Linked DNA regions of Homo sapiens. The protein of the gene in region 5 purifies or fractionates together with the protein of the main gene of each other region. This does not show direct contact. Each region holds a gene or a part of one and is shown on either strand. Other genes may lie near its edges. The genes, in order: SDHAF4, BOLA3, XRCC2, ALDH1L1, NDUFAF5, STARD7 and CTH.

The links.
Region 1: the proteins of NDUFAF5 (region 5) and SDHAF4 purify together in Homo sapiens (co-immunoprecipitation; one large-scale study listed by IntAct). This does not show direct contact.
Region 2: the proteins of NDUFAF5 (region 5) and BOLA3 purify together in Homo sapiens (affinity purification with mass spectrometry; one large-scale study listed by BioGRID and IntAct). This does not show direct contact.
Region 3: the proteins of NDUFAF5 (region 5) and XRCC2 purify together in Homo sapiens (affinity purification with mass spectrometry; 3 studies listed by BioGRID and IntAct, with this or other methods). This does not show direct contact.
Region 4: the proteins of NDUFAF5 (region 5) and ALDH1L1 purify together in Homo sapiens (co-immunoprecipitation; one large-scale study listed by IntAct). This does not show direct contact.
Region 6: the proteins of NDUFAF5 (region 5) and STARD7 purify together in Homo sapiens (affinity purification with mass spectrometry; one large-scale study listed by BioGRID and IntAct). This does not show direct contact.
Region 7: the proteins of NDUFAF5 (region 5) and CTH purify together in Homo sapiens (affinity purification with mass spectrometry; one large-scale study listed by BioGRID and IntAct). This does not show direct contact.

The regions. Positions count from the first base shown.
Region 1 is NC_000006.12:70,576,628-70,580,970, reverse strand, and holds part of SDHAF4 (succinate dehydrogenase assembly factor 4, mitochondrial precursor), read right to left. Parts: intron 1,558-4,343; coding exon 1,405-1,557; intron 1-1,404. UniProt on the Homo sapiens protein: Plays an essential role in the assembly of succinate dehydrogenase (SDH), an enzyme complex (also referred to as respiratory complex II) that is a component of both the tricarboxylic acid (TCA) cycle and the mitochondrial electron transport chain, and which couples the oxidation of succinate to fumarate with the reduction of ubiquinone (coenzyme Q) to ubiquinol.
Region 2 is NC_000002.12:74,137,722-74,142,064, reverse strand, and holds part of BOLA3 (bolA-like protein 3), read left to right. Parts: intron 1-4,343. UniProt on the Homo sapiens protein: Acts as a mitochondrial iron-sulfur (Fe-S) cluster assembly factor that facilitates (Fe-S) cluster insertion into a subset of mitochondrial proteins. Probably acts together with NFU1.
Region 3 is NC_000007.14:152,665,864-152,670,206, reverse strand, and holds part of XRCC2 (DNA repair protein XRCC2), read left to right. Parts: intron 1-4,343. UniProt on the Homo sapiens protein: Involved in the homologous recombination repair (HRR) pathway of double-stranded DNA, thought to repair chromosomal fragmentation, translocations and deletions. Part of the RAD51 paralog protein complex BCDX2 which acts in the BRCA1-BRCA2-dependent HR pathway.
Region 4 is NC_000003.12:126,170,256-126,174,598, forward strand, and holds part of ALDH1L1 (cytosolic 10-formyltetrahydrofolate dehydrogenase), read right to left. Parts: intron 1-4,343. UniProt on the Homo sapiens protein: Cytosolic 10-formyltetrahydrofolate dehydrogenase that catalyzes the NADP(+)-dependent conversion of 10-formyltetrahydrofolate to tetrahydrofolate and carbon dioxide.
Region 5 is NC_000020.11:13,818,841-13,822,710, reverse strand, and holds the end of NDUFAF5 (arginine-hydroxylase NDUFAF5, mitochondrial), read right to left. Parts: 3' UTR 1,131-3,870; downstream 1-1,130. UniProt on the Homo sapiens protein: Arginine hydroxylase that mediates hydroxylation of 'Arg-111' of NDUFS7 and is involved in the assembly of mitochondrial NADH:ubiquinone oxidoreductase complex (complex I, MT-ND1) at early stages. May also have methyltransferase activity.
Region 6 is NC_000002.12:96,198,307-96,202,649, reverse strand, and holds part of STARD7 (stAR-related lipid transfer protein 7, mitochondrial isoform 1 precursor), read left to right. Parts: intron 1-4,343. UniProt on the Homo sapiens protein: May play a protective role in mucosal tissues by preventing exaggerated allergic responses.
Region 7 is NC_000001.11:70,414,000-70,418,342, forward strand, and holds part of CTH (cystathionine gamma-lyase), read left to right. Parts: intron 1-1,956; coding exon 1,957-2,038; intron 2,039-3,937; coding exon 3,938-4,033; intron 4,034-4,343. UniProt on the Homo sapiens protein: Catalyzes the last step in the trans-sulfuration pathway from L-methionine to L-cysteine in a pyridoxal-5'-phosphate (PLP)-dependent manner, which consists on cleaving the L,L-cystathionine molecule into L-cysteine, ammonia and 2-oxobutanoate.

The DNA.
Region 1 (4,343 bases), on a different chromosome or scaffold from region 5:
GAAAGAGTGAGACTCCATTTCAAAAACAAAAACAACAACAAAAATATATTCACAAGGTTGTACAACCATCACCACTATCTATACCTAAAACATTTTCATCATCCCCACAATGAACTCTGTACCCACTAAACAATGACTTCTCCCTTAGTCCCCGGAGTCCCTGATAGCCTCTATTCTACTTTCTGTCTCTATGAATTTGCCTATTCTAGGTACCTTATATAAGTGGAATCATATATTTGCCCTTCTGGGTCCAGCTTATTTCACTAAACATAATGTTTTCAAGGTCCATCCATGTTGTAGCATATATTAAAATTTAATTGCTTTTTATGACTGAATAGTTTTCCACCGGATGTATATGCCACATTTTGTTTAATGATTCATTTGTTTGTGAACATTGGGTTGTTTCCACCTTTTGGCTACTGTTAATAATACTATGAACATAGTTACAGAGATATCTGTTCAAGTCCCTGCTTTCAATTCCTTTAGATACACACCTAAGAGTGGAACTGCTGGGTCAAACGGTAGTTCTAAGTTTGATTTTTTGAGGAACGGCCATACTGTTTTCCACAGTGGCTGCAACATTTTACATTCCCAGCAGAAATGCCTGAGGGTTTCAATTTCTCCACATCCTTCCCAACACTTGTTATTTTCCATTTTTTTCTATTATAGCCATCCTAGTGGGTATGAAGTAGTATCTCATAGTTTTGATTTGCATTTCCCTAATGATAATGATGCTGATGCTGAGCATCTTTTCATGTGTTTGTTGGCCATTTGTACATTTGTATACCTTCTCTGGAGAAATGTCTACTCAAATACTTTGCTATTTTTTATTTTTATTTTTTGTAGATTACTGGAGTTCTACACACACACACACATACATATAATATACACATATATTTGTTATTTATTTATCATACCTCATTATTCATATAGCAAAATATATAAGTTAAGACTCAAGTGCTTTGCTATTTTTGACTTTTCGTTGAGTTATTGGAGTCCTTTATATATAATATGTGTACATTACATATATAAAGTGGTTATATTTATTATACCTCATTATTCACATAAGATCTTTGATACAAATAACATAACCTTCTTTGATACAAATAACATCATTTATTTGTAACAAAGAAGGTCTCAACTTATATATTTTGTTATGTGAATAATGAGGTATAACAAATAAAACAAACACAATCAAATACCTGTCAGAATCTTGAAAATCTTTTTTATTAAGAAATCTACATGTATCGATGGTCAATATGGTGATTTTACTCATTGTTGAAATATGCTTTATTACTACAGAATTTAAGCAATAACAAATTTCTTTCCTTTCACTCATTTTCTCAATAACTAAAACACTTTCCTTGATACTTCAAAAACTGAGAGGTGCTTTATTATACTTACTTTCCAGTGGTTCTTTCTCTAAATGGGAATCCTCTGGTGCATCAAAACGACCTTCTGGTAACTTCGGCTTCTTAAGGGACTGTTTGACAAGTTCAGACTTTCCTCCTTGAGAAGAACTTGTTTTCCTCAGAGAATGACACAGAAGGGGTGATCCTAGAAGAGTGGAGATAATAGAAAAATAGGAGCTGTTCATTTATTCCACTTTAAACATTTATAAAATTTTATTTATTTGTTTTTAGTTTATACATTCACATTTCTCAAAGTTCAAAAAGTACAAAAGGACGCAGAGTGAAAATTCTTCCTTCCTCTCCAGCCATTTCCCTTCCTGGAAGACCACCAGTTTGAAAAGAAGGGCTATGAAATAAATTAGTTAATTGTTATCAATATTGCAGAAACTTATATTAAAACATTAATTCCTATCTGAAGCAATGCCAAAAAACCAGGAGTTCAAATATTAAGAGTAACTTAGTAGTACAAACTTTTCAATGACAATATTTAGTATTCAAATCTCTAAAAGTCAGAAGTGGCTACATTTAAATCCTAATCAAGGTCCTCTTTTCCTGTCAACTAATTTAAGAATACATCAAGTTGGGCATGGTGGCATGCACCCGTAGTCTCAGTTATGCAGGAGGCTGAAGAGGGAGGATTCCTTGAGCCCAGGAGCTCAATTCTAGTCTGGGTAACATAGTGAGACCATGTCTCTAAAAAAAGATTGTTTTATGGGGAAAGAAGTCCCTATTTGATAAATGGTGCTGGGATAGTTGGCAGCTATGTGCAGAACAATGAAACTGGACCCCTATTTGTCACCACATACAAAAATTAACTCGAGATGGATTAAAGATTTAAATGTAAGACCTCAAACTGTAAGAATCCTAGAAGAAAACCTCGGAAACACTCTTCTGGACATTGGTCTTGGGAAATAATTTATGACTAAGTCCTCAAAAGCAACTGCAACAACAACAACAACAACAAATTGACAAATGGGACTTAATTAAACTAAAAAGCTTTTGTAGAGCAAAAGAAACGCTCAACAGAGTAAACATACAACCTACAGGATGGGAGAAAATATTTGCAAACTACACATCTGAGAAAAGTCTCATATCCAGAATCTATAAGGAACTTAAACAACTCAACAAGCAAACAACAACCGCACTAAAAAATGGACAACAGACATGAAGAGACACTTCTCAAAAGAAGACATATAAGCGGCCAACAAACATATTAAAAAATGCTCCACATCACGAATTGGTAGATAAATGCAAATTAAACTCATAATGAGAGACCATGTCACATCAGTCAGAATGGCTATTATTAAAAAGTTAAAAAACAACAGATGCTGGTGAGGCTGTAGAGAAGAGGGAATGCGTATACACTGCTAGTGGGAATGTATCTTAGTTCAGCCACTGTGGAAAACAGTTTGGAGATTTCTCAAAGTACTTAAAACAGAACTATCATTTGACCCAGCAATCCTGTTACTGGTATATACCCAAAAGAAAACTACTCATTTTTCACACCAGAAAGACACATGCGCTTGCATGTTCACTGCAGCACTATTCACAATAGCAAAGACATGGAATCAACCTAGGTGCTCATCAATGGTGGACTGGATAAAGAAAATGTGGTACATATATACCATGGAATACTATGCAACCATAAAAATAATGAAATCATGTCCTTTGCTGCAACATGGATGCAGCTGGAGGCCATTATTCTAAGTGAACTAATGCAGGAACAGAAAACCAAATATTGCATATTCTCACATATAATTTTCTAATTCTATAGAGTGAAACACTGGATACTCAAGAACATAAAGAAGGCAACAATACAAACTGGGTACGACTGTCAGGGAGGGAAGAAGGGGATGCAAGGGTTGAAAAACTAACTTTTAGGTACTATGCTCATTACCTGGGTGATGGGATTATTCGTATCCCAAATCTCAGCATCACACATATACCCAGGTAACAAACCTGCACGTGTACTCCCTGAATCTAAAATAAAACTTCGGATTTTAAAATGTACTGGGTGTCTGCAATGCGTAAATGACATCATTTTCTCTCTAGTTTCTAAAAAGAGTTGAACTTTCTATGCTATAAAAGTTATCCAAACCCTCATTGAGATAATATTCAGCAAGGGCAAAACCACAGGGAAAAAAGTGATCTCAGCGTTAGGGGTTTCCAGCTTCCTAAAGAAATTGCTTTTAGAAGCAGATCAATTTGAGTACAAGTTCTAGCTACACCTCTGTAGCAAACAGAATAATGGCCTCAAAGATAATCAGAATCCAATACCCAGAATCTGTGAATAGGTTTGGTTACACGGTGAAGAATTTTGGTAGCAGACAGAATTAAGGTGGCTAATCAGATGACCTTAAAATAGGGAGGTTATCCAGGATTATGGGGTGGGTCAATGTAACCACAAGGGTCCTTTGAAAGGGAAGACAGGGTTGGAAGACAGACCAGACCCGATGTTGCTGGCTTTGAAGATGGAGGAAGGGGGCAAGCCAAGGAATGTGGGCAGCCTCTAGAAGCTAAAAGAGAGAAGGAAATGTATGTGGCCTCCAGAAGGAACACAGCCCTGCTAACTCCCTGGTTCTAGCTCAGTGAGACCCCTTCCAGACTCCTGACCTCCAAACCTGTAAAATGTGTTAAGCCACCAAATTTGTGGTAATATGTTACAGCAGCAATAGGAAACAAATGCAACCACTTACTAGGTGTTGGATGTTGGTCAAGTTACCCTTTTTGTTTCCTTCCCTGTAAACAGAAAAATTACAGTACCTGTCACATGAGATTGCTGAGTAAACGGGACAATTTATGCCTTTAGGATAGTGATAAACAGTATTTATTTTTAGTTTGATGGAATTATCTGTAAGCTTTTGACAGCATTACATATTAGAATGTTTTTTCATTACACATATTTTTCTCATATTCTAGTCATCACTACAT
Region 2 (4,343 bases), on a different chromosome or scaffold from region 5:
CTCCCAATAGTGATTTTGTATGTCCTCGTATAATGCTACCTATGTTTACTGTTATTGTCACATATTGATGAGTATATCTAAACACAGACACTGCTAAAAGATACATGTTTTTGTAGATCTGAAGAGGGGTTTTTTGGCCTCTCTTTGGGACTGCTTTACAGATGAGTCAGTTGATGCATGGCATGAGTGAGAATGGCTGCAGCTGCCCCAGACCCAATGACAGAACATTTGGGTTCTGGAACATCACGTTCAACCAGCCTAAGGCTCAGTTTAAATATTATCCATATTTATTTTAATTTGGAATTTATACCAACTTTGACCCTTGTACCTGTACCTATGAATTTGCCCCCTCACTGGGTGTGTTTGGCATCGTTCTGGAAGGTCTTGCCATTGTGAACTAGTGTTATTTTTGTAAAGCACAGCACTGGTAATGAGCGTCTCTTCGGTGGCCTCTCATGCATTGAGTTCAGGTGTCCTAGACTGCTGTTCACGCATTTCCCCCCACCCTTCTCTGCGTGCACCCTCCCAGCCGGCCTCTGCCCGCTGGTCTCTCTCTTTCTCTATCTGGGCCTTTGCCCAGATTGGACCTTCTGCCTGGGTTGCCCTTCCTCCCGTCCTCCACTCAGCTCAAATGCTGCCTCCCCTCCCTCCCCAGCAGGGAATGAATGCCGTTCCCCCACCCTCCCCGGCCCCCTTTTTTGGCTGTCGGTGTTTTCCGTCTTGTGTCCTGAAAACGGACATCTCTGCTGTCTGACCCTGCAACCTGTCAGCCCTTTGTGGACCAGTGCCCTTTGGGATCCATCTTTGTGTTTCTCATGGAACGTAGCCCTTTGCAGTGGATGTGACCCCTACAGCCCTAAGGCATGCTGGTGGTCTGCTGGGTGCTCCATCACTGAGCCCTCCCGGAAACTCTTGCAGTCCCATGTGATCTCTGGGGTCAGAATCAAGGCAGAAGACAAGACAGGGAAGACCTGGCTGGCCAGATGATCCCCAACCCGTGGCACTTTGGGTTTTATTCTCAGATCTGTACAAGCCACCTGGTGTGACTGGACCCATAGGTGCTGGTAATTTGAGTGTGTCCCTTGGCCTGAAACCACAGTTACAAGTGGTTAAGGAAGCAGTTTCTGGAATTGGACTTCCCACTTTCAAATCTGGGCTTTGCTACTTTCTAGCCATGTGACCTTGAGCAAGTTTTTCAACCTCACCCTTTGCCTCAGTTTCCTAATTGAGAGTAACAGTACTTGCTTCAAAGTGTTGCTGTGAGGATTCGTGATAAAGTACACGTTGACCACTGACAACACTGCCCGACACATAGTAAGCCTTCCATAAATGTGACCGCCATCACCATCATTGTCATCTCCAACACTGGAAGGAACCTGCACCAGTCTGGGGTGGGGAAGGGCTGTGATTCCCACAGTTTGGGGGAGTGTCACCTCACGGTCTTGGGATTAAGGTGTCTTCTGGCCCCCTATAGCAACATGTGCCTCTCCTCACACTTCCTGAGTAGACAGCCCAGTCACTTGTCTTTCATTCCCCCTCGAAAGCAGGCTTACTGCAGGACGGGGCTGTGTCCCCCACACCTAACAAAGGACCTGGCACATGGAAGGAGCCCAGTCAGTATTTCTTGAGAGTTTGCAGAGAGTGAGGAGAGTTGGCTTGTGTTTTCTTATTGGCTTACCCATGGAAATTATGTTTTAGTATCTGAAAGGCATTCTGTTTTGGAGAACTCACATCCTGACATTGGGGCACTTTTTAAAAATATATACTTCTTTTTTTTCCCTCCCACAGAGTATCACTCTGTCACCCAGGCTGGAGTGCAGTGGCGCTATCTCGGCTCACTGCAACCTCTGCCTCCTGGGTTCAAGCAATTCTTCTGCCTCAGCCTCCCAAGTAGCTGGGACTACAGGCGCCCGCCACCACACCTGGCTAATTTTAGTATTTTTAGTAGAGATGGGGTTTCACCATGTTGGCCAGGCTGGTCTCGAACTCCTGACTTCAGGTGATCCACCTGCCTCGGCCTCCCAAAGTGCTGGGATTACAGGCATGAGCCACCATGCCCAACCTTAAAAATATACATTTTTATATTTATATAGAGATGGGGTTCCACTATGCTGCCCAGGCTGGTCTTGAACTCCTTGACGATCCTCCTGCCTCGGCCTCCCTAAGTGTTGGGATTACAGGCGTGAGCCACTGTGCCCAGAGCAGCTGCATCCTGAGTTATTCTAGAGGCCTCTCCTCTGCCCCCAGCCAGAACAGCCCTTCTGGCTCAGGACTTGGGGGGGTCATGCAGCTCCACACTGGATGTCTGCAGGCAGCTGACATGAGGGGGTCCCCTGAGCCTGGCCACAGTACATTCTTAGGGGGCTGACACTTGTGTTAAAATATATGGACTTGGTCATAGGCAATTTTAGATGATTTAAGTCTGGAGATGTTGGCTTTGACAGTCGCATGAGAAGAATGAAAATGAAAATCTTCAGGAACAAGTCTGTTGGCCGGCAGGGTCTGAGCCGGGACCTGGAGCTGCCCTGCTCAGGACAGCTGTTGGGAATGGGGTTCTGACAGGCACTGCCCTAGGAGGAGGCAGAGACCTGGAATCAAGGGGAAGGCAAGGTGGTAACTGGACTCCACTCCCAGGGCCAGCTGGTCTCTTCAGGAGTGAGGTGGGGGTGGGGTAGGTGCCCCATCCAGATGCTCTCATGCCCAGGCTGTTTGGGTGGGGGCCTGGTGTCCTGACGGGGTGAAGCTTGCCTCATCTATTTTGCCTACTCACCCTATGCGTAGTAGTGTTCATCCTGGTGCTGTAGAGTCAGAATTTTCTGCCCAAAAGGCCTGAAAAGGTCGCCCAACCCATCCGATACTGGCATCCCTCCTGAGCTTCCCATCAGACTGTCCCTGCGGGATTCCCTGGAGGGGGCGCCCCCTGTCGGCACCCTCAGGAATGGACTCGTTCCTCTGGGACCCTGCTGCGCGGGGCTCAGCCTCTCCCAGGGCCCAGTGCGTCAGCCTTCTCTTGGGAAATACTTACTGGGCATTTGCTGTGGGCCACGCCCTAGGAGGCCTAGATGTTGAGGGTTTTGTACCAGGAGCACCTCCCTACCTGTCCTCCTGCCATCCTGGGGAGGTGTCAGCAAGGGTAGAGTAGGTAGGTAGCCACGGTGATCACTGAGTTGCCTTTTGAGGTGGACAGAGGTGAGATTTGAGCCTCATATTGGCAAATATTGCATGAGGCATTGACCACAGGTGCCCAGCGTCGTGCCTGCCACGTGGAAGGCAGTTGCTAAACAGCTGTTGCCGTCTCCCTGCCTCCGGCCTCTTTCCAGCTTAGGGGATTGCCCTCCCCTAAGGCGCCTCCACCAATGTCTTTCCCCTGCTCAGAGCCTTTACGTGGCTCCCCTGGTTGCCCAGAATCCAGTCCAGTCTTCCTAGCCTGGGATTGCCCATTCTTCATGTGATCTGCCTCAGTCTCCCTGACATGTGCCTACCTCAGTGAATCACGGGAGCTTCCCAGCCTCTCCTCACTTTGCTGTCCTGGGGCAGATGCCCTCTCACTCTTGCCTGCTCCACCTCTGGCTCCAGCTCCAGGGCTGCCTCCTGTGTGTGGCCCTTGTGCGTCCACCCCAGTCACCAGTGCAGTAGCTCACCTCGAACACCGGAAGCAGGGCTGTGCTGGCTTGAGTCTGGCAGTCCTCTGCTGCCCACATTCAGCCCATTTGTGTTGGACTTAATGCTACTTTCTCTTTCATTACTTTCCCACGCCTTTTCCTCTGTGTCCCCAGCACCTACTATAGTGCTGTGGGCATAGCAGGTGCTTAAGAATGGTTATCCAAGCTGCATCTTATTACCCATGGGACTTCGGCCAAGTCACTTCCCCCAGCAGGGCCCCAGTTTCCTTAACTGTAGAGTGACTCAGGTGATCTCTAAGACCCTGTGTGGCTGTAAGGGACTGTAGTGTGTTTTGGGAAGCCCTCAGGGGCTGCACAGAGAGCAGGGAGAAGGCATCAGGGAGGGGGAGTGCGCAGGGCCTGAGTGGGTGAAGCCCAGAAGGTTCCTCTGTCCAGGGTCAGTCACATGAAGGTGTGACTGGGCCCTCACCCAGCCAAGGTGGATGTAAGGAGGAGAGGCTGGTTGTGGTCCAGGCACAGACACAGTCTCTAGGGAGCATTCCACGCCTGCAGAGAGCAAGTGGCCCAGGGACCTTCGCCCAGTGATTATATGAGGCTTTTTCCAGGGACATTTCTGCCTGTCCGCAGAGTTGAGGGCCCTGCACTTGATTGTGGAGCTGGAGGGTGTGCAGTGTAGGCCAAGTGGGGCAGCTCATTGTCCCCCAACACAACAGGAGCTCC
Region 3 (4,343 bases), on a different chromosome or scaffold from region 5:
GAATGCCCAGAATTTTCATTCATTCAGTAGGGAATTTAGTTGGAGGAAATAGGCTAAAGATATTCCAGGTAGAAGGAAAAAAGGCATTTCTCTCTCAGTACACAATTTATATTTACCTGAAAGAACTATGTACTAAAATCTGTCACTCAAAATTAAAAGTCACTCTCACGCAGATTAGAATTGGCCAACTCTCTTTTATGCCCTCACAATGCCCCATGTGTATTTCTGTTACAGCACCTGCCTAACTTTATTGTACTTTTTTTTTTTTTTACAGCCTTTTGACTGTTTAGTTTAAATAGGTTACACTATGTTGCTAGCCTTGGCCCAAGCATCCTTTCACCTCGGCCTCCCGAAGTGCTGGGATTACAGGCATGAGCCACGATGCCTGGCCTCCCCATCAGTTTTGTTGAAAACAGCAACTGTGTTGGCTACATCTTTATATCCCTAGCACTTACCTCAGTTCCTGGAACATACTTGACTTGCATGAAATGTTCACCGGTAAGTGGCCAGGCATGGTGGCTCATGCCTCTAATCCCAGCACTTTGGGAGGTCGGTGCAGGCAGATCACTTGAGGTCAGGAGTTTGAGACCAGCCTGGCCAACATGGTGAAACTCCGTCTCTACTAAAAATAGAAAAAATAGCCGGGTTTGGTGGTGGGCGCCTGTAATCCCAGCTACTCAGGAGGCTGAGGCAGGAGAATCGCTTGAACCCAGGGGCTTGCAGTGAGCCGAGATTGTGCCTCTGCACTCCAGCCTGGGCGACAGAGTGAGACTCTGTAAAATGTTTACCATTAAATGTCTGTATAATTGAGCATTATCTCTTTTGCAGACTAAATGCTTGCTCCAGCAATGCTGCTGCTGCTGAAGACATTTGGGACACCTTGTTAGTGTTCAAGTTTCAACTAAAGGAATGGTTGAAAGAAGTCAGATAATCGCCCAGACAGGACCTCAGATGGCTTTCCTCCTGTTTTTTAATTTTTAACTTTTATTTTTCTGTAGAGGTGGGATCTCACTATGTTGCCCAGGCTAGTCTTGAACTCTTGGCCTCAAGTACTCCTGCCTCAGCCTCTCAAAGTGCTTGGATGACAGGTGTGAACCACTGCACCTGGCCTGATTTTCAGTTTAATAGGTCCAAAAACTCAGTTTAGTCCTTGTACTCATATTTGATTAGTCTCAGTGATACTGAGGTTGTATAGCATAGTAGAAAAATTCCAGGCTTTGAGAATCACAGAGATCTTGATTAAATCCTGGCCCTGACATTTACTAGTTTTCTCATGTGAAAAATACAATAGTAACAAATAGGGTTGATGTAACAATTAAAGGACATAATATAAAGAATGTACTGCTGATCCCACAGTAAGCTCAAATAACTATTATTAGATAGCTATTGTTACGATAATAGAACTTAGCAGATGCTGATTTACAATCCAAGTATCAAATCTATTGACTCACAATATTAGTGAAACTGTCAAATAGATTAAAATTATTATGTCCACTGTGTATTCTTTTCTAGTTAGGAAATTTTGCCTCGGAAAGGTTGCTTAGAGAATTAAGAGAAACAGTTTGTCATAATGGCTATCATCACCAAGCTCTGATGCCTGATGTATTAGTCTTCCCTAAGAGGATTAAACTGTCATGTCAAGCAGAATTTACTTGGGTTCCCTTTACCCTGGACACTTAACAAACTCTTCTTTCGCTTCTGAAACTGCAGGTTGACCATACCTTGCTTCTATTGACTCTTTCCTTGAATCTGGACATCATTAATTTTAATTTTCTGTAATAGGCCTATGTCAGATTTTTGGAGTACCTCTTTTCTTATCCATGGAGGATATGTTCCAAGACCCCCAATGGATGCTGAAACCACAGATAGTAGTGAACCCTATATACACTATGTTTTTTCCCATACAGTAATGAACAGGTAGTGTGTACAGCATGGATATGCTGGACAAAGGGATGATTCATGTCCCACGTGGGACAGAACAGGATGGTACGATATTTTATTATGCAACTCAGAATGACATGCAATTATTGAAAACTTGTGTATTTATTTCTAGAAGTTTCTGTTTAATAGTTCCGAACTGTGGTTGGCTATAACTGAAACCACAGAAAATGAAACTGCAGATAAGGGGGGACCAGTGTATTTTCTGCCTATGTTTAGAAGTTTCTTTTTTTTTTTTTTTGAGATGGAGTCTCGTTCTGTCTCCTAGGCTAGAGTGCAGTGGTGTGATCTCGGCTCACTGCAACCTCCACCTTCTGGGTTCAAGTGATTCTCCTGCCTCAGCCTCCCGAGTAGCTAGGATTACAGGCGCCCACCACCATGCCTAGCTAATTTTTTGTATTTTTCATAGAGATGGGGGTTTCACCATGTCAGCCAGGCTGGTCTGGAACTCCTGACCTCAGGTGATCCACCTGCCTCAGACTCCCAAAGTGCTGGGATTATGGGTGTGAGCAACAATTACAATTGTTAATTGTAATATTAACAATTTGCTTGGCTTGTGAATTGTTAATATTATCCATTACTTGTAAATTTAAATCTATTTCCTATTTCTGGGAGGTTCTTTCACCCCCTTTATAATTCAGTATACTCTGCTTTGACGTTGTAAAACGTTGCTTTGGATATTCTCAGTGGTGGACAGTTTTTCTCCTTTGAAATTAAATTTGATTTTCTAAGTAACAGTGGAAAGTCTGATGCAGATTGCCTAATCCTTGTGGGTAACTAAGAGGAGTAATACCATCTTCGCCCAAAAGAGTCCCGTCAATAAAATTATAATACTTTTTTTCTTTTTTTTTTTTTTTTTTTTTGAGACGGAGTTTTGCTCTTGTTGCCCAGGCTGGAGTGCAATGGCGTAATCTCGGCTCACCGCAACCTCTGCCTCAGACTCAAGCGATTCTTCCGTCTCAGCCTCCCCAGTAGCTGGGATTACAGGCATGTGCCACCACGCCTGGCTAATTTAGTATTTTTAGTAGAGACAGGGTTTCACCATGTTGGTCAGGCTGGTCTCGAACTCCCAATCTCAGGTGATCTGCCCACCTTGGCACTCCCAAAGTGCTGGGATTACAGGCGTGAGCCACCGCACCTGGCCTATAATACTTTCTTGAGTACTATTTTGCCAGGATTTCTCAGGGGTGAGGATTCTACAGTGTTTTGAGAAATGACAGTAAGAGTAAACAATTGGAGTGTCTTCCCAAGTTAATCTAATGAGGATGTTATTCATTCGTATACATGCCTTTGAAGATATTTTATAGTTGTTTCCACGTGCTCTTTCTTGTCCATGAAAGTCTCTCTGTCTTGCTGGGCGCAGTGGCTCATGCCTGTAATCCCAGCACTTTGGGAGGCTGAGGCGGGTGGATCACCTGAGGTCAGGAGTTTGAGACCAGCCTGACCAACATGGCGAAACCCCATCTCTACTAAAAATACAAAAATTAGCCAGGCATGGTGGCACACGCCTGTAATTCCAGCTACTTAGGAGGCTGAGGCAGAAGAATCGCTTCAACCCAGGAGGTAGAGGTTGCAGTGAGCTGAACTTGTGCCACTGCACTCCAGCCTTGGTGACAAAGCGAGACTCTGTCTCAAAAAAAAAAAAAAATAAAGAATCTGTATTTTTCTTTGAGTTATACTCTTTCAGTCTTGTAGCCCAGTGGTTCTTATAGGTTTTAGTCTTAGGACTATGTAACACATTTAAAAGTGGGAGATTCCACTGGGCATGGTGGCTCATGCTTGTAATCCCAGCACTTTGGGAGGCTAAGGTGGGAGAACTGCTTGAGTCCAGGAGTTCGAGACCAGCCTGGACAACATAGGGAGACCCTGTCTCTGCAAAAAGTAAAAAAATTAGCTGGGTTTGGTGGCACACACCTGTGGTCCCAGCTACTCAGGAGGCTGATATGCAAGGATTGCATGGGCCCAAGAGGTCAAGGCTGCAGAGAGCCATGATGTCATCACTGCACACTCCAGCCTGGGTGACAAAGCAAGACCCTGTCTCAAAAAAAAAATTATTGAAGAATCTAAAGAGCTTTTCTTTATGTTATATGTGTCCATGAAACAAATTTAAAATTTTAAAATATTTACATTCATGTACAGTGACACACACATTGAATATTTTTATAAAACATATTTTTATGAAAAAAGCTGTATTTTTCTAAGAAAAAACTGAGAAAAATGATGTTGTTTTACATATTTGCAAATCTTTTTAATATCTGGCTTAATGGAACTGGGTTCTTATGCAGTCTGTTATCATATGTTGGTTGGGTTAAAGTATATGAAGAACATCCATCCTCTCAGAGAAAGTCACGTTGGGAAAGGGAGGAGTATTTTAAGACCTTTTCACAGAATTATAGATATTCTTC
Region 4 (4,343 bases), on a different chromosome or scaffold from region 5:
CTCACTCTACTATTTGCAGTAGGACTGTGAACCCTCAGAGTGGAATATCTGACAGAGAATCTCAATTACTGTAGCATTTTGCTTAATTATTATCCTCATAGCAGGAATAACAGTTACTAACAAAAAATAACACATGGGTCTTTCCAAACATGCACCTCTGCCTGTCATTAAAAAAAAAAAAAAAAAAAGTTACTTCTGTCTCAACCAGTCGGGCCTAATAAAAAATGCTGCTGAAAAGCCTAGGACTAATGTTTTTACTCTGCCTAATTAACCTTTATCAAAAATTTTTAACCGACAGAATCATGGCCATTTCGCAACTACCCAAAAACATCTACAAATGGTGTTGATCCTACAGTCAATCTAAGACCAAAAAACTCTCCACCCCCGCATCAGCAGGAAGTAGCTAGAAAGAACATGTCCCCTCTTGTCCTTTTATAACCATAGGGTCTGGAATGATAGAGCAGGAGTACTGTCATCTCAGACAAACACCGCCACTTTAAATTCCAGCTCCCTTTCTAGCCTCATGCATTTCAAGGAAATCACTTCTCTTCTAACTACAAGCAGCCAGAAAGAGCAGACAGTAAAACACGGATAAGACAGCTGGGACACAAAGGGAGGTGGGGGGAAAGTATCTTGGGTAACTGCCAAACTTCACCCTCATACGATGGGCCCCAGTAAAACAGTGGGCCTTAATAATAAGGAACAAGCACATTCCCTTTCCTTCAGGGGCACTAAGACAGGAAAGCTAAAAGCAGACTCTTGGCTGGGCGCGGTGGCTCATGCCTGTAATCCCAGCACTTTGGGAGGCCGAGGCGGGCGGATCACGAGGTAAGGAGATCAAGACCATCCTGGCTAACACGGTGAAACCCCGTCTCTACTAAAACTACAAAAAATTAGCCAGGCGTGGTGGCGCATGCCTGTAGTCCCATCTACTCAGGAGGCTGAGGCAGGAAAATCGCTTGAACCTGGGAAGCAGAGGTTGCAGTGAGCCGAGATGGCGCCACTGCACTCCGGCCTAGCGACAGAGCGAGACTCTGTCTCAATAAATAAGTAAAAACAGACTCAGGGACTATACCTGCAGCTGCAGGAAAAATGTATGAAAACAGGCACACAACTCTCCCTCCCAGATAAGCACAACAAAGAGACACAGAAGCAGTCCAAGCCTCTGATAAACTCTCCCATCCTGAATCCTTAAAAACTCAGTCTGTAAGAGAGTGTGCCTCTGACCTAACTTGGCCAGAAGGCTCCTTTCAGGTTGATTTTCTCTAAAATAAATGTCTTAACTGGCAAGCCAGCTTTTGTATTTCTTTCCTCTTTCTTTAATTCTTACAGTTCTCACAGTAAGGATTGGAGAAAAATCCCCTTCTGGTTTTGGCAGGAGGCAAGGAAAGCAGTCATTTTTTTCTCAACATATCTACCCTCATAGAAACTATTATACCAGAGCCTAAGTGAATGGACACCCAGGGCCTAACTAACCTAAGTGATGAGGAAAAACCCAAATCCAGCCCCTCTAGCCTTTCTCATCACCTAAAAGGGGTAGGACTGAGAAACACTTGTGAAGGTCACAGCCCAGGGGTGCAGGCTCACTGAAACACTAAGACCTAATTGTAGGACTGTAAAACACTTCCCCCCACCAAAACACCTTGCTACTACATCCACAGGGCTCCAGTATAGTAACAAGGGGATTACGGATAAGAGAACTGCAAGCCAGAGCCTATTTAAGGAGTTTCTACAAAAACCCAAAGACAACAGGGTAGACAAAAACAAGAAGATGAAGAGAGAAAATTATATCCTCTGATACCCACAGCTATAGCAAATAGTAAACACATTCTAACTCCTAGACAGGTAAATATCAAACCTCACACTAAAAGCCTATCTACCTCAGTACCTTTTACCCAATACATTATATCTGATTTTCTGCAAAACAATTACAAGATATATAAAAGACAAAAACACAGTTTGCAAAGATGAAACAAGCACCTAAACCACAATCAGATATGGAAGCAATGTTGGAATTTTCAGATGGAAAATTTAAAACAATGATAATTAAAATGCTAAGAGCTCTAATGGAAAAATGTGGAGAACATATAAGAACAAATTGGTCATGTAAGCAGAGAGATGGAAATTAAGAAAAAAATCAAAAAAAGTCTAGAAATAAAAACCCTGTGATAAATGCAAAGAATGTCTTTAATAGGTTTATCAATAGACTGGATACAGTTGAGGAAATAATCAATGAGATGGATGAAATATCAACAAACACTTCCCAAACTGAAATGCAAAGGGAAATATAGAATAAAAAAGACAAAACAGAATATCCAAGAATGGTGGGACAATTGCCATAGGTGTAAATCCTTGTAATAGGGATATCAGATGGAATAAAAAGAAAGAAAGGAATAGTAAAAATGTTTGAAGTGATAATGACTGATAATTTTCCAAAATTAAAGACAGATACCAAACCAAGATCCAAGCAGCTCAGAGGAAACCAAATAGGATAAAGATCACCCCCCACCCCCCAAAAAATCTATACTTAGGCATATCATATTCAAACTGCAAAAAATAAAAGACACAGAGATAATCTTCAGTGAAGCCAGGGAGAGGCAGGGCAGGACACCTTACCTATAGAGGGAGAGAGATGAGGATTACATCAAACGTCTCTTCATAAACCATGCAATCAGGAATAGAATAGAAAGAATTATTTAAAGAACTGAAAACATTCCATCAACTTAGAACTAACTAGATTCCATCTGTATGCAGTAAAATTGTCCTTCAAAAGTGGAGGAGAAAGACTTCTCAAACAAAAATTGAAGGAATTTGTCACCAGTAAACTGCCTTACAAGATATGTTAAAAGAAGTAATTCAGAAAAAAAGGAAAATTAAACAAGTCAGAAACTCAACATACAAAAGAGTATTAGAAATAAATGTGAAATAATTTTTTTTCTTATTCTTAATCTGAGAGATAACAATTTGTTCAAAATAATAATTGCAACAATGTATTCAGTGATTGTAGCTTATGGATAAGTGAAATGAATGATAGCAGTAATAATAAGGCATGGGAGGGAGGAATCAAGAATACTCTGCAATAAGGCCCTTACACTACCCATAAAGTTGTATAGTGTTATTCAAAAGCAGACTTAAATTAGATTTAAGTGTATATTGCAAACTGTAGGTCAACCACTAAAAAAGCAACAACAAAAAAGTAAAACTGATATGCTAAGAGAGAAAAGAAAATGGAATCATATAAAATGCTCAGTTAAGATCAGAAAAGGCAGAAAAAAGTGTGGAAGAAAAAAGAAACAAAGGGCAAATAGAAAACAGTAATAAATATGGTAAATATTAATCCAACTATATCAAAAAATCACTTCAAATATCAATGGTGTAAATATACCAATTAAAACATGTGACTATCTAGAGTGAATAAAGAATCGTGACCTAACTATATGTTGTCTACAACAAACCCATTTCAACATAAAAACCAGATAGGTTACAAATAAAGGGATGGAGAAAGATATACCGTGCTACCACTAATCAAAAGAAATATGGAGTAGTTCTATTAACTTCAGATAAAGCAGACTTCAGAGAAAGGAAAATTATTAGGAATAAAGAGAAGCACTACATAATGGTAAAGGAGTCAATTATCCCAGCAGACATAATACTCCTTAATATGTATGTGCCTAACAACAGTGCTAAAATGTGTAAAGCAAAAACTGACAGAATTTTAAGGAGAAATAGATGAATCCACTATTATTACAGTTGGAGACATCAACACCTCTCTGTCAGTCCCCACTAACGTTTTTTTTGGGGGGGCGGAGTTTCACTCTTGTTGCCCAGGCTGGAGTGCAGTGGCACGATCTCGGCTCACTGCAACCTCCGCCTCCCGGGTTCAAGCAATTCCCCTGCCTCAGCCGCCCGAGTAGCTAGGATTACAGGCATGCACCACCACGTCCGGCTAATTTTGTATTTTTAGTAGAGCCTCCATGTTGGTCAGGCTGGTCTCGCACTCCTGACCTCAGGTGATCTGCCCACCTCGGCCTCCCAAAGTGCTGGTATTACAGGCGTAAGCCACCGTGCCTGGCCAGTACCCACTAACTGATAGATCCAGCAGGCTGGAAATCAGTAAGGACATAGTTGAACAGCACCATCAATTAAGTGTATCTAATTGGCATTTAGAGAATACTTCACCCAACAACAACAGAATACACATTCTTCTCAAGTTCACATGGAATATTCATCAAGACAGACCACATTCTGTGCCATAAAACATACAACAACAAATATCAATGACTTCTATGATGGAGATTACTGAGATCACAACAGAATCACTAGAAATCAATAACAGAAAGATA
Region 5 (3,870 bases):
AAAGCTCCTCTGAGATCATCCTGTCCAATGGCTCGCAACCATTTCCCACCTCTAACATGAGCTCCCTCTGGCTGTGACTCTCAACCAAGGAGAGAAAGGTGGAAGTGTTTGAAAAAGCCCTTCAGGAACGTGAAAGGCAGGCTGGTAGCCTCCTTTGAGACTCACCAATTAGCAAACCTGTAATTTTACAGATGAAGATATTGAGGTCAGAGAGATGGAGTCTGCCCCAGCATTAGGAACAAACAGGACCAGCACTAAACCCAGACCACCTGACTCCCAGTCCCCGACCTTTCTTTGACTTCCATAGTTTTTTATGGCAGACTGGCAAGTCTTTCTTTGGAATTCTCCTCTTCCCAATCTCCCACTCACAATCTGAGCACAAACACTCTGAGCACAAAAACAGTACACCTGGTAAGTGTTCCTGATATTCTACCACCAGACCTGTTCTGACAGAACTAGCAACGGGCATCCTGGCCAAACGTGTGATTCCTGAATGAAGAGTCTAGACACTGGCCGGGTTACAATGGCCACTTTCAAAGTGCAGGCAATTTACTTTTGCCTGGTTTTAGCAGTGACTAACAATGTACGATCAAGTCTGGCTTTAAAGAGTCCTTGTTATTTCCACATCCTTGTACTCATTTGTGAGCCTGGTAACAAGTATGCAGTGTCAACAGTCCATCCTAATGAGCTGTCGCAACTCAACAGCTACGGCAGAAGGGAACTGGCTGAAGAATCTGTGTGCAGTTATGTAGCTCACTGAATTCTCATGGTCTTCCCAAATTCTCTGATTTCATTTGGAAATTAGCCCATCGAGGCTTCCAAAAAATTTATCCTAATATTCCCAGGAAAGAAAATTTGAGGCCTACTAAACTTAATGTGGGAAGTTAGTTCCATTTCAAGATATCATGGAATCAAACCTCCAGGCAAGAGCATTTCAGGTCTGGTGTTCTCTGAGAACAAAAGTAATACAGTTTATGTTAACTTTACCTAATTGTAAATAAGGGGGCTATGTTTTATGCTGAAAATAACAACTCAGAATACCTTGCCCACCCTAATACACCTCCTGAAGACAGTGTATCGCGTATCAGTTATCTATTGCTGTGTAACAAATTACTCTAAAACACAGTTGCTTAAACCACAAACATTTATCATCTCAGTTTCTGTAGATAAGATATTTGAGAGTGGCTTAGCTAGGTGGTTCTAGCTCAGGGTCTCTCATGAGGTTGTGGTCAATGCATTGGCTGGGACCACAGTCATCTGAAGTTTGGGCCTGGAGAATTGCTTCCAAGATGGCTCCCTCACATGGCTTTTGGCTGGAGGCCTCTGCTCCTCACTTCTAGGTCTTCTCCATGGAGTTGAGTGGCCTTACAATATGGCTGCTGGCTTTCCCTAGAGTGAAGGATCCAAGAGAGAGTAAGGAGGATGCAATGCCTTTTATTACCTAGTCTCAGAAGTGACACACCATCTATTTGTTGGAAGGGAATCACTAAACTCAGCCTGTACTTAGAGGGGAATGAAGTGTCCCGTCTTAAAGAGAAGCATATCAAAAATTTGTGGATAGATTTTAAAACCACCACAGATGGCAAAGCATTATTTTCTTATTTGTTAACAGTAACTTATCAGTGTTCACCCCACCTTCTAGTATTTTCAAATTGATGTTTTTTAAACCAGCATGGTAAAATAACTGTCATGTATGTATTCAGGTAGAGAATTAAAATATACCAATATCTGAAAAGGCAAGTCTGCTTATGATAAATTTCCTGAAGATTAATTTCACATCATTAACCACAACCCCTCCCCAAAAAAGCTCAAAATATTTCTTAAGCAAGAGAGGCTAATGGTAACTTACAAAGGAACAGAATAATAATCACTGCATCAACTATCTTTCTTTTTTCCAAATATCTACTAATATTCACTTCTTTCCTTCACAGAAGCCAATCCACGGTAAAATACTTTTATTCCACTCCTACTTAAGGAATACATAATCAATACAAAAATTGTACTTTTTTTTTTTCTTTTTTGAGACGAGGGTCTTGCTGTTGCCCAGGCTAGAGTGCAGTGGTGCGACAGCTTGCTGCAGCCTTGACCTCCTGGGCTCGATCAATACTCCCACCTCAGCCTTCTGAGTAGCTGGGACCACAGGCTTGTGCCACCATGCCTGGCTAATTTTTTTTTTATTTGTAGAGACAGGGTTTCATCACGTTGCCCAAGCTGGTCTCAAACTCCTGGGCTCAAGCAATCCTCCCGTCTCAGCTTCCCAAAGTGTTGAGATCACAGGTGTGAGCCACTGCAGCCGGCCAAAAAACTGTACATGTCTTTAATGCAGGTCATACTGTAATTGCTTCCACCTAGTGGATGAAAATGGTACTAAAAGAGTTTGAAAAAATATATAAACTTCCCTCACAGGTACTTCATGACTCACACACTTCTGTAACTTTTTACAATCATATCACATACTTGATGTATATAGGTAGCTTACATCTCAATAAATCCTACAAATTCTTCCTATAAAGCAAAAATTCTTTTGTAGGTATACATTTTCATATTTACCTTTGGAATTCTCCAGGCCAACCTGGAATATTGCTAAGAACCAGGAAATAAGCCAAACAGTCTCCTGGCAGCCAACAGGTGTCACGGTGTGCACATACTAGAGCCCTGTCAGACTGACAACTATAAAAGCAGAGACTAGTTGGATGCCTGGCACATGAAACTCAATGAAGATCTGTTAAAGGAACCAATAAAGCTCATGAATTTTATTCCAAAGGAGTCTTTCTCCCAGAACCTAGTTCCTCTTTCCTACCTTAATACAAAAGTCCTAGAAATCTTTCAGTATGAATTCTAATCTTATAGCTAAACAGAGAAGAAATGACTCAAGAAAGTTCATTTTGGTCAAGGTGTTGAGATTGACAACTGACAGCAAGTAAGAAAAGTGCTGGAAAAGACACAAAACCAACCACAGCATTCTTGGGACCAGTCTGGGAAGAAGCAATACAGACAACTTGAGTTTATGATATTATCTGTGGGGTTATCAAGAAATGGTTATTGGCCAGGCCTGGTGGCTCACACCTGTAATCTCAGCACTTTGGGAAGCCAAGGTGGGCAGATCACAAGGTCAAGAGATTGAGACCATCCTGGCCAACATGGTGAAACCCCATCTCTATTAAAAATACAAAAATTAGCCAGCGTGGTGGCACGCGCCTGTAATCCCAGCTACTTGGGAAGCTGAGGCAGGAAGAATCACTTGAACCCAGGAAGCGGAGGCAGCAGTGAGCCGAGATTGCGCCACTGTACTCCAGCCTGGAGACAGAGCGAGACTCCGTCTCAAAAAATAAAATAAAATAAAAAATAAAAAAATAAACCAACAAAAAAGATGATTATTTATCATATACCATTTAAGAATGTAACATTTATGAAAAATTTTTGATAAAGACCTTTTAAAAGTTTCATTGCTTAAAAGGATGAGCTCTTAATCATTTGGAAAATGTGGTTATTCAGAAAAATTAGTTTCCTGAGGGCTCCAAACAATAAAAGCTTAATAGCACACTTCCAGCAGATTTAACTACAAAAATAATTTCACTAGTGTTATACACACTAAAATAAGTGTTTTCACTACAATCACTCACATTAAACAATAAGGGTCCTCAATTAGCTGTGTTTGATTTACTTAATTTTTTTAAACAAATGGAGCTTTTTTTGGGATAGCCAGAGTAGAGTAATCCTTAGCTCCACCCCACCATCCACATATAATTCCGTTGACATTAAATAAGCAAAAGTAATATTCTTGCTTGGAAAATTCAAATTTTACAGGAAGTTTAAAAAGTGAAAAGTACAAGTCTCCCTCCTAGTTTCTATACCCCTGACAGACATTCA
Region 6 (4,343 bases), on a different chromosome or scaffold from region 5:
TTAAAGAATGACACTCAAGAGTTGTGCTTAGTTATTGTTGAAGGATGCTTTATAGACCTCAAAAATGCTGTAATCGATGCCCTATGGTGCCTGATTGTTCTCTGAGCAAATCTAGCTATGGTTTTGCTTTTGCTCTTCTTCTGCAACATCTAAATGCCTATCCTAAGGTTCCTTCTCTGTTTCTCTATGGTTTTGCAGCTGGTCAGGGTTCTTGGTTGTAACAAAGAAACTGGTCTTGGTTAATTTAAGCCAAAAAGGAATTAATCAAAACGGTATTAGGTCACTCAGTATTGACAAGGCCAGGGTACAGGTTGACCAAGACCTGCAGCAGGAATAATCTACTTAGAGCAGTGTTGCTGGCATTCTTTCCCCCAGATTGGTTGTACTCCTGGACTCCCAGCTCCCTCAAGATCCTGTGCCTTTGTGTTATCTTCAAGATGCAAAGCCCCTTCTAGAAGTCTCTAACCTCACTTAAATTAGGAGCTGTGCTTTAACTGCTTGTGGGCGGGAGGGGGGCTGCATTCACCTATTTGGGTTCTTTCCAAATAGAAAGGGATTTCAGGCAGTCAAAATGACAAATATTCCCCTATATAAATATTTTCATCCAAGTCCAAAGCTTAAAATTCAGCAAATTCAATTTTAGAACTAATAGGACTTCAAGAAATAACGTCCTCACTTTAAAGGTAAAATAAAATAAGATCACACAGCTGGTCAGCTGTAGAGCCAGGACTAGAACACAAATCTTTAGACTTACCATTATTTTGAATTGCTCTAAACTTTTAATCTTGGATTGACACTATACCTTTGAATTTTTGGCTTTTGCAGCAATATATTAATGCAATATATATATATTTTTGAGACAGTTTCACTCTCACCCAGGCTGGAGTGCAGTGGCACGATCTCAACTCACTGCAACCTCCATCTCCTGGGTTCAACAGATTCTTGTGCCTCAGCCTGCTGAGTAGCTGGGATTACAGGCGCAGGCCACCATGCCTGGCTAATTTTTTTTTGTAGTGCTGGGATTACAGGTGTGAGCCGTTGCACCTGGCCAATTTTTTTTTTTTTTTAAGAGTCTTACTCTGTTGCCAGGCTGGAGTGCAGTGGCATGATTTTGGCTCGCTACAGTCCCGACCTCCAGGGCTCAGGTGATTCTCCCACCTCTGCCTCCTCAGTAGCTGGGACTACAGCTGCATGCCACTACGCCCAGCTATTTGTTGTGTAATTTTTTTTTTTTTTTTTTAGAGGTGGAGTTTTGCATGTTGCCCAGGCTGGTCTTGAAGTCCTGGGCTCAAGTGATCTGCTCACCTTAGCCTCCCAAAATGCTGAGGATTATAGGCGTGAACCACTGCCCCAGGCCTTAATGCAATCTTTTAATAAAAATTTGGATTACTGAGGCCTATTTTCATTTTATTATTTCTTGATTTACTAAATTTATTCATGTAATGTATGTAATGTTTACCAGGACATGTAATGTTTACCAGGACATGCTAGGAGCTGGAACTACAAATATGAAAAAGACTGATTCTGGGCTATTAAGGAATTTATAGTTTAGTAAGGAAAGCAGATATAAAGATAGATTAATTATAGTGTAATATGCCTGTGTAAAGGAATAAAAATCAGTGTGTATGGTTAACTCTGCCTAGCAGTTACCTTTGTGGTTTTTTGAAGCTTGAAGGGTGAAAAGGCATTTCAGACAGTGTAGCAGTAATTTGGGTCTTCTTCAGTCTTGAATTGCAATAGAGTGTATAAGACAGCCAGCCAGCAATTTTTGTTTCTTATCTGTAACCTTTCTTTAAATGTTGCAGGGGGTAGGGTGAGGTGGAGGGCACGGAGAAGCTGGGTATGGTAGCACACGCCTATTGTGCCAGCTACTTGGGAGGCTGAAGTGAAAGGATCTCTTAAGCCCAGGAATTTGAGGCCAGTTTCGGCGACATAGTGAGACTTTGTCTCAAAAAAGAAGAGGTTATGGGAAAAATACAAGCCAAGTTTTAAAAAATTATTATTATAAAATGTTTCAGATATATAAAAAAGGTTTAAATAATAACACGAGCGTTGCAAGTACAGCTATGTTAAGAAATAAGATATTACAAGTATACTTAGGGTTCCTCTGTACCTTTTTCCAGTTGTATTCTTATTTTTCCCCAAGATGTCACCATTATCCCAATTTGTTGTATATAATTCCCTATGTTTTTATACATATGTATATACCCCTGAATGATACATAGTGATACATAGTACAATATATGGTGGTGTTTTTCATGTTTTAAAACTTTTTGCAGCCGGTGAGTCCCGCCTGGAATCCCAGCACTTTGGGAGGCCCAGGCTAGTGGATCACTTGAGGCCAGGAGTTCAACACCAGCCTGGGCAACATGGTGCAACCCCATCTCTACTAAAAATACAGAAAACAAATTAGCTGCATGTGGTGGTGCTTGTCTGTAGTCCCAGCTACTTGGGAAGCTGAAGTGGGAGAATCACCTGAGCTTGGGGAGTTAAGGCTGTAGTGAGCTGTGATTATGCCACTGCACTCTAGCCTGGGCTCAGAACAAACAAAAAAAAACCACACAACTTTTCGCAGTCCTGAACAAAATACTAACAAACTGAACTCAGCAATATATGAAATGGATTATATGCCATGAAAAGTAGGATTTATTTAAGGAACGGCAAGGTCGGTTCTTCATACAAAAATCAATTTATTACACCATATTAATAGAAAAAAGGACAAAAACTGCGTGATCATCTGAATAAACACAAAAAGTATTTGACAAATTCCAGCCTCCTTTTGTGATTAAAAAAGAAAACACTCAGCAGACTGGGAATAGAAGGAAATTTCTTGCAGCTGATAAAAGGCATCTACAAAAAACATAGCTAACAGTGTAGTTAATGGCAAAAGACTTAGTGCTTTTCTCCTAAGATCAGGAACAAGATGAGGATTCTGCTCTCACCATTTCTGTTCAACATTGTACTGGAGGTCATAACCAATGAAATCAGGCAACATAAGGAAATGAAAGTCATTTAGATTGGAAAGAAGAAATAAAACTATCTCTATTTGCAGCTGACATGATCTTATATTTAGAAAATAGTAAGGAATCTACAGAAAGCAATTAGAGCTGATAAATGAGTTCATCAAGTTTGCAGGATACAAGATCAATACACGGAAGTCATGTTTATGTACACTAACAATGAATCTGAAAATAAAATTAACAATTTCATTTACAGTAGCATAAAAGGAATAAATACATACGAATAAATTAACAAGTGTACAACTAAAACTGTAACACTAAAAACAACAAAACATCATTGGAAGAAATTTAAAAAGACATAAGTGAAAGACATCCCGTGTTCATGGATTAGATTAGAACACTTAATATTGCTAAGATGGCAATACCACTTAAAGTGATCTACAAATTCAGTGTAGTCTTTATCAAAATCCTAGGCAGTTCTGCAGAAATTGGCAAGCCACTTCTGATAGTCATATGGAAATGAAAGGAACTCAGAATAGCAAAAACAGTCTTGAAAAAAGAGAACAAAGTTTGGAGGACTCACTGTTCCCAATTTCAAAACTTATTACAAAGCTACAGTAATGACATTGTGGTACTGGCATAAGGATAGACATCTAGATTGTTAGAATAAAATTGAGAGTCTAGAAATAAACCTTTACATTTTTGGTCAGTTTTCAACAAGGATGCCAGGATAGTTCACTGGGGAAGGAATAGGCTTTTCGACAAATGACACTGGGTCACCTGGAGAAGCAGATGCAAAAGAATGAGTTTAGACTCCTACCTCATTATCATACACAAACATTAACTTGAAATGGGGTAAAGACCTAATGTAAGCTAAAATTCTAAAACTCTTAGAAGAAAATATAGGCATAAGTTCTTATGACCTTGGATTAGGCAGTGGTTTCTTGGCTATAACACCAAAAACAAGCAATCAAAGAAAAAATAAACATCAAAATTAAAAACTTTTATGCATGAAAGGATACTATCAAGACTAGTATAAGCACATGAAAAGGTTAGGGAAATACCAGTCAAGACGCAATGAGATACCATTTCACACCCACTAAGTTGGCTGGAATAACAAAGATGGACAATAACAAGTGGGGCAATTGGAACCAAGGATGTGGAGCAGTTAGAATCCTCAAACATTGCTGATGTGAATATAAAATAGTGTAATTGTTTGGAAAACATTTTGGCAGTTGCTTAAAAAGTTAAGCATAGTTACCATGATCCATCAAATCTGCTCCTAGGAATCTACCCAAGAGAATTGAAAACATGTCTATATGAAGATTTGTACACAAATGTCCATAGCAGTATTCTTTTTTTTTTTTTTGAGACAGTTTTGTC
Region 7 (4,343 bases), on a different chromosome or scaffold from region 5:
GGGATTACAGGCATGAGCCACCGCGCCCGGCCCTTTTTAAAAATCAGCTAAGACCACTAAAGGGAATTTGAAGAGCTGAATGAGAAACGGGAGGTACCTTTCTGTGGCAGAAGCCACGTGAATCCAAACTTTTTTTTTTTTAATCTGCAGGGTACAGCTGCAGGTCATGGTAAGAAGGTGATGGTGGGGAGGGGTAAGGATATCCTGGAGCCCTATAAAATATGTCTGCTCAGGTTGGGCGCGGTGGCTCACGCCTGTAATCCCAGCACTTTCGGAGGCTGAGGCGGGTGGGTCATGAGGTCAGGAGATGAAGACCAACCTCCCCAACGTAGTGAAACCCCATCTCTACTAAAAAAGTACAAAAATTAGCTGTGTGTGGTGGCGTGCCTGTAGTCCCAGCTACTCTGGAAGCTGAGGCAGGAGAATCGCTTGAACCCGGGAGGTGGAGGTTGCGCCACTGCACTCCAGCCTGGCAACAGAGCGAGACTCCCTTTCAAAAAAAAAAAAGTCTGCTCAACTTGTCATAAACAAGGGCACATAGCAACAAAACTTTTAGAAGTTATTGTTGTTAATACTGGGAGCTTCTGAATCAGAAACAAAGGTGAAAGAGTGGTTGTGTTTTGTTATGTTATGTGAAGCAGAGGGAGAAAATTATAGGACTTCTAATTAATGTTCGAATCCTTGGTTCACAATCCGGTTTTGACACTCCCTAGGTACTATTGCATTTGGCTTCACTTTCCTCAAAGCCAGTCATAAGGATTAGTAGAATGACTGGATGAATATAGCTAGCAGGGTGCCATATATGTAAAAGGAGAATAATGCAATTTTTTTTTTTCCCGAGACAGAGTCTCGCTCTGTTGGCCAGCCTGGAGTGCAGTGGCACTATCTCGGCTCACTGCAACCTCCGCATCCTGGGCTCAAGCAATTCTCCTGCCTCAGCCTCCCGAGTAGCTGGGATTATAGGAATGCAAATTTTTAAAAAGTATTGTGTGGAGCTGTTTTGCCAGGAATTGCTCCCTATGCTTTGAGCCACTTTTGTAGAGCCAAGATGTGAATGAATGTTGAGCATTGGTAGGATGTGATCATAACTTCCTGTTGTATGCTAAATAGAACTTGAATCAGCCTGACAGATGGCTCACTCCTGTAATCTCAGCACTTTGGGAGACCAATGTGGGAAGATTGCTTGAGGTCAGGAGTTCAAGACCAGCCTGGGCAACATAGCTAGACTGCCTCTACAAAAAATAAAATTAAAATATTTGTTAGGCATGGTGACATGCACCTGTAGTCTTAGCTACTCAGGAGGCTGAGATCGGAGGATTGCTTAAGCCCAGGAGTTTGAGGCTGCAGTGAGCTATGATTGCCCCACCGTACTCTAGCCTGGGCAACAGAGTGAGGTCCTATCCTTAAAAAAAAAAACTTGTATCACTTAATCATTTATTTCTTAGGAAATGAAATACAGGTTAGAATTAGGTTTATTCTGTTGGCTCATGCAAGTCCCTTTTCCTAATGTTTCCAGATTAATGAAAAAAGGTGAGTCTAACATAATAAACATACTAATAATAAAAACTGTCATTTATTTAGTGATTAGCATGTGCCAGGAAACATGTAGTGAATTTGTGCATTATCTCATTTTATCTTCACAACAATTTTATGAACCAGATATCTGTATTTTATTCCCATTTTACAGATATTGAGATTGACTCTTGGAAATGTGAAGTAACTTACCTAGTGTCATGCAGCTCATAAGTGGCAGATACAGAATTCACATAGAGTTTGTTTGACTTCAGAGCATCTTGACTATAGCCACAGCACTGTTCTGCTTCTGTATTAAAGCAAGACATATCATGACTAAAGAATAGAAACTAATTATGGTAGGGTGAAACTATAGTTCTCTATGTTAGGACTCTGATAATAAACTGAAATCTCTTAGGATGAACTCGAACTTGTTTTTTTCAGGGTTTTGAATATAGCCGTTCTGGAAATCCCACTAGGAATTGCCTTGAAAAAGCAGTGGCAGCACTGGATGGGGCTAAGTACTGTAAGTAATTTCCATTTCACAGTCTAGAATCTATTTTTAAATGTATAGAGAAAACCATAGAGGCACAGAATGTGGAACTGAAAAGAAACAGATTTGCTAGTTCAAAATTCCTGTTCTACTGCCTTTGAATTCTTTGCCCAAGGTCCCTCAGTTGGTATAATATGCATATGTGTAATCATCAGGTAAAAATACGTATGAATAGAGGACAAATGAATAAAGGAAAAAATTCACACGAATACTACATTTATTAATACTACATTTATCATGTAGTATTCATGTGAAAACAATCTTCATCTGAAACTGTCAGTATAAATAAATAAATGGAAATTAAATTTAATAACACCACCTATTAGAATATAAAATCTTTTTTTGAGACAGGGTCTCTCATTCTGTTGCTCAGGCTGGAGTGCAGTGGCACAATCTCTGCTCATTGCAACCTCCTCCTCCAGGATTCAAGCGATTCTCCTGCCTCAGCCTCCTGAGTGGCTGGGATTGCAGGTGTGCACCACCACACCCTGCTAATTTTTTTTTTTTTTTTTTTTTGAGACAGAGTCTTGCTCTTGTCGCTCAGGCTGGAGTGCAATGGCAGGATCTCGGCTCACTGCAACCTCCGCCTCCTGGATTCAAGCAATTCTTCTCCTTCAGCCTCCCAAGTAGCTGGGATTACAGGTGCCTGCCACCACGCCCAGCTAATTTTTTGTATTTTTAGTAGAGATGGGGTTTCACCATGTTGGCCAGGCTGGTCTCGATCTCCTGACCTCGTGATCTCCCGCCTTGGACTCCCAAAGTGCTGGGATTACAGGAGTGGGCCACCACGCCCAGCCTTTTTTTTGTATTTTTAGTAGAGATGGGGCTATTTTGGCCAGGCTGGTCTGGAACTCTTGGGCTCAAGTGATCTGCCCACCTCGGCCTCCCAAAGTGCTGGGATTATAGATGTGAGCCACCACACTTGGCCTAAACTTGCTTATCCTCTGGTTTATTCACCTAATAATTTGTGCCTGAGAATAGCACTAAAGTTATTTTCAGTGGTCAATAACTCCTGATAATGTGCTGTCAGAGATTAGAGATTAACTCCCTAAACTTTTTTTTTTAATGAAGAGAGTCTTGTGTATTCATTGTGATTACACTTATCAGACAAATCTCAGGTCTGATTGCGAGTTTTGTTAAAATATTTACTGAATTGCATATTCATATAATTAACGTATGAATCATATCTTTGCTCTATTCTTTATGTTTGAAATTTCTCTTTTCTTTCTTTTTTTTTTGATATGGAGTCTCCCTCTGTCACCCAAGCTGGAGTGCAGTGGTGCAATCTTGGCTCACTGCAACCTCCACCTCCTGGGTTCAAGCGATTCTCCTGCCTCAGTCTCCCTCGTAGCTGGGATTACAGGCATGTGCCACCATGCCTGGCTAATTTTTGTATTTTTAGTAAACACAGAGTTTCACCCTGTTGGCCAGGCTGGTCACGAAATCTTGACCTCAAATGATCCACCTGCCTTGGGCTCCCAAAGTGCTGGGATTATAGGCATTAGCCACCACGCCTGCCCTGAAATTCCTTTAGTTTGCTATTTTTAAACTGTAGTTTAACTGGCAATAGGCCTTTTATCTCAGATATTTGTAAAGAATTATTTTCTTGAAGTGTTTCAGAGAAATATTATTACCAAGGCAAAATTGACTTAACACAAAAGTATCTGTCCACATTATATATTTTTTATTTTAAAGATATCTTATTCTTGAAATAGAAAAGGAGATTTTGTAATGGTATTAATCAGGGGCCTCTAGCAACTCAGCAGTGATGGCTTCCTATCTGCATTAAAGTAAGTCAGGTAAATACTTGGAGGTGTGTTGTAACCTATAGGCCTGACTTTTCAGCTTACTCTAACTTGATTTTTATTTTAGGTTTGGCCTTTGCTTCAGGTTTAGCAGCCACTGTAACTATTACCCATCTTTTAAAAGCAGGAGACCAAATTATTTGTATGGATGATGTGTATGGAGGTAGGTGACCCCTCTCATTTATATTCTGTAAACTTGTATTTTACAGATAATAAAGTGAGCCCTGAATTAATATTAACAATGTTGCCAGTATTTTTGATTATTTATTATAGTTTACAGGTGTGACAGGTACCTCTATGCTCTCTCAGACTTGGGAAAAGAGGAGCATAAACACTTAGGGTCCATGTTCTGGAACTGCTTATAAGAGAGATTATTTATTTATTTATTTGTTTATTTTTAGATAGGATCTCACTCTGTCACCCGGGTTGGAGTGGAGTGGTACGATCTCAGCTCACTGCAGTCTCCGCCTCCT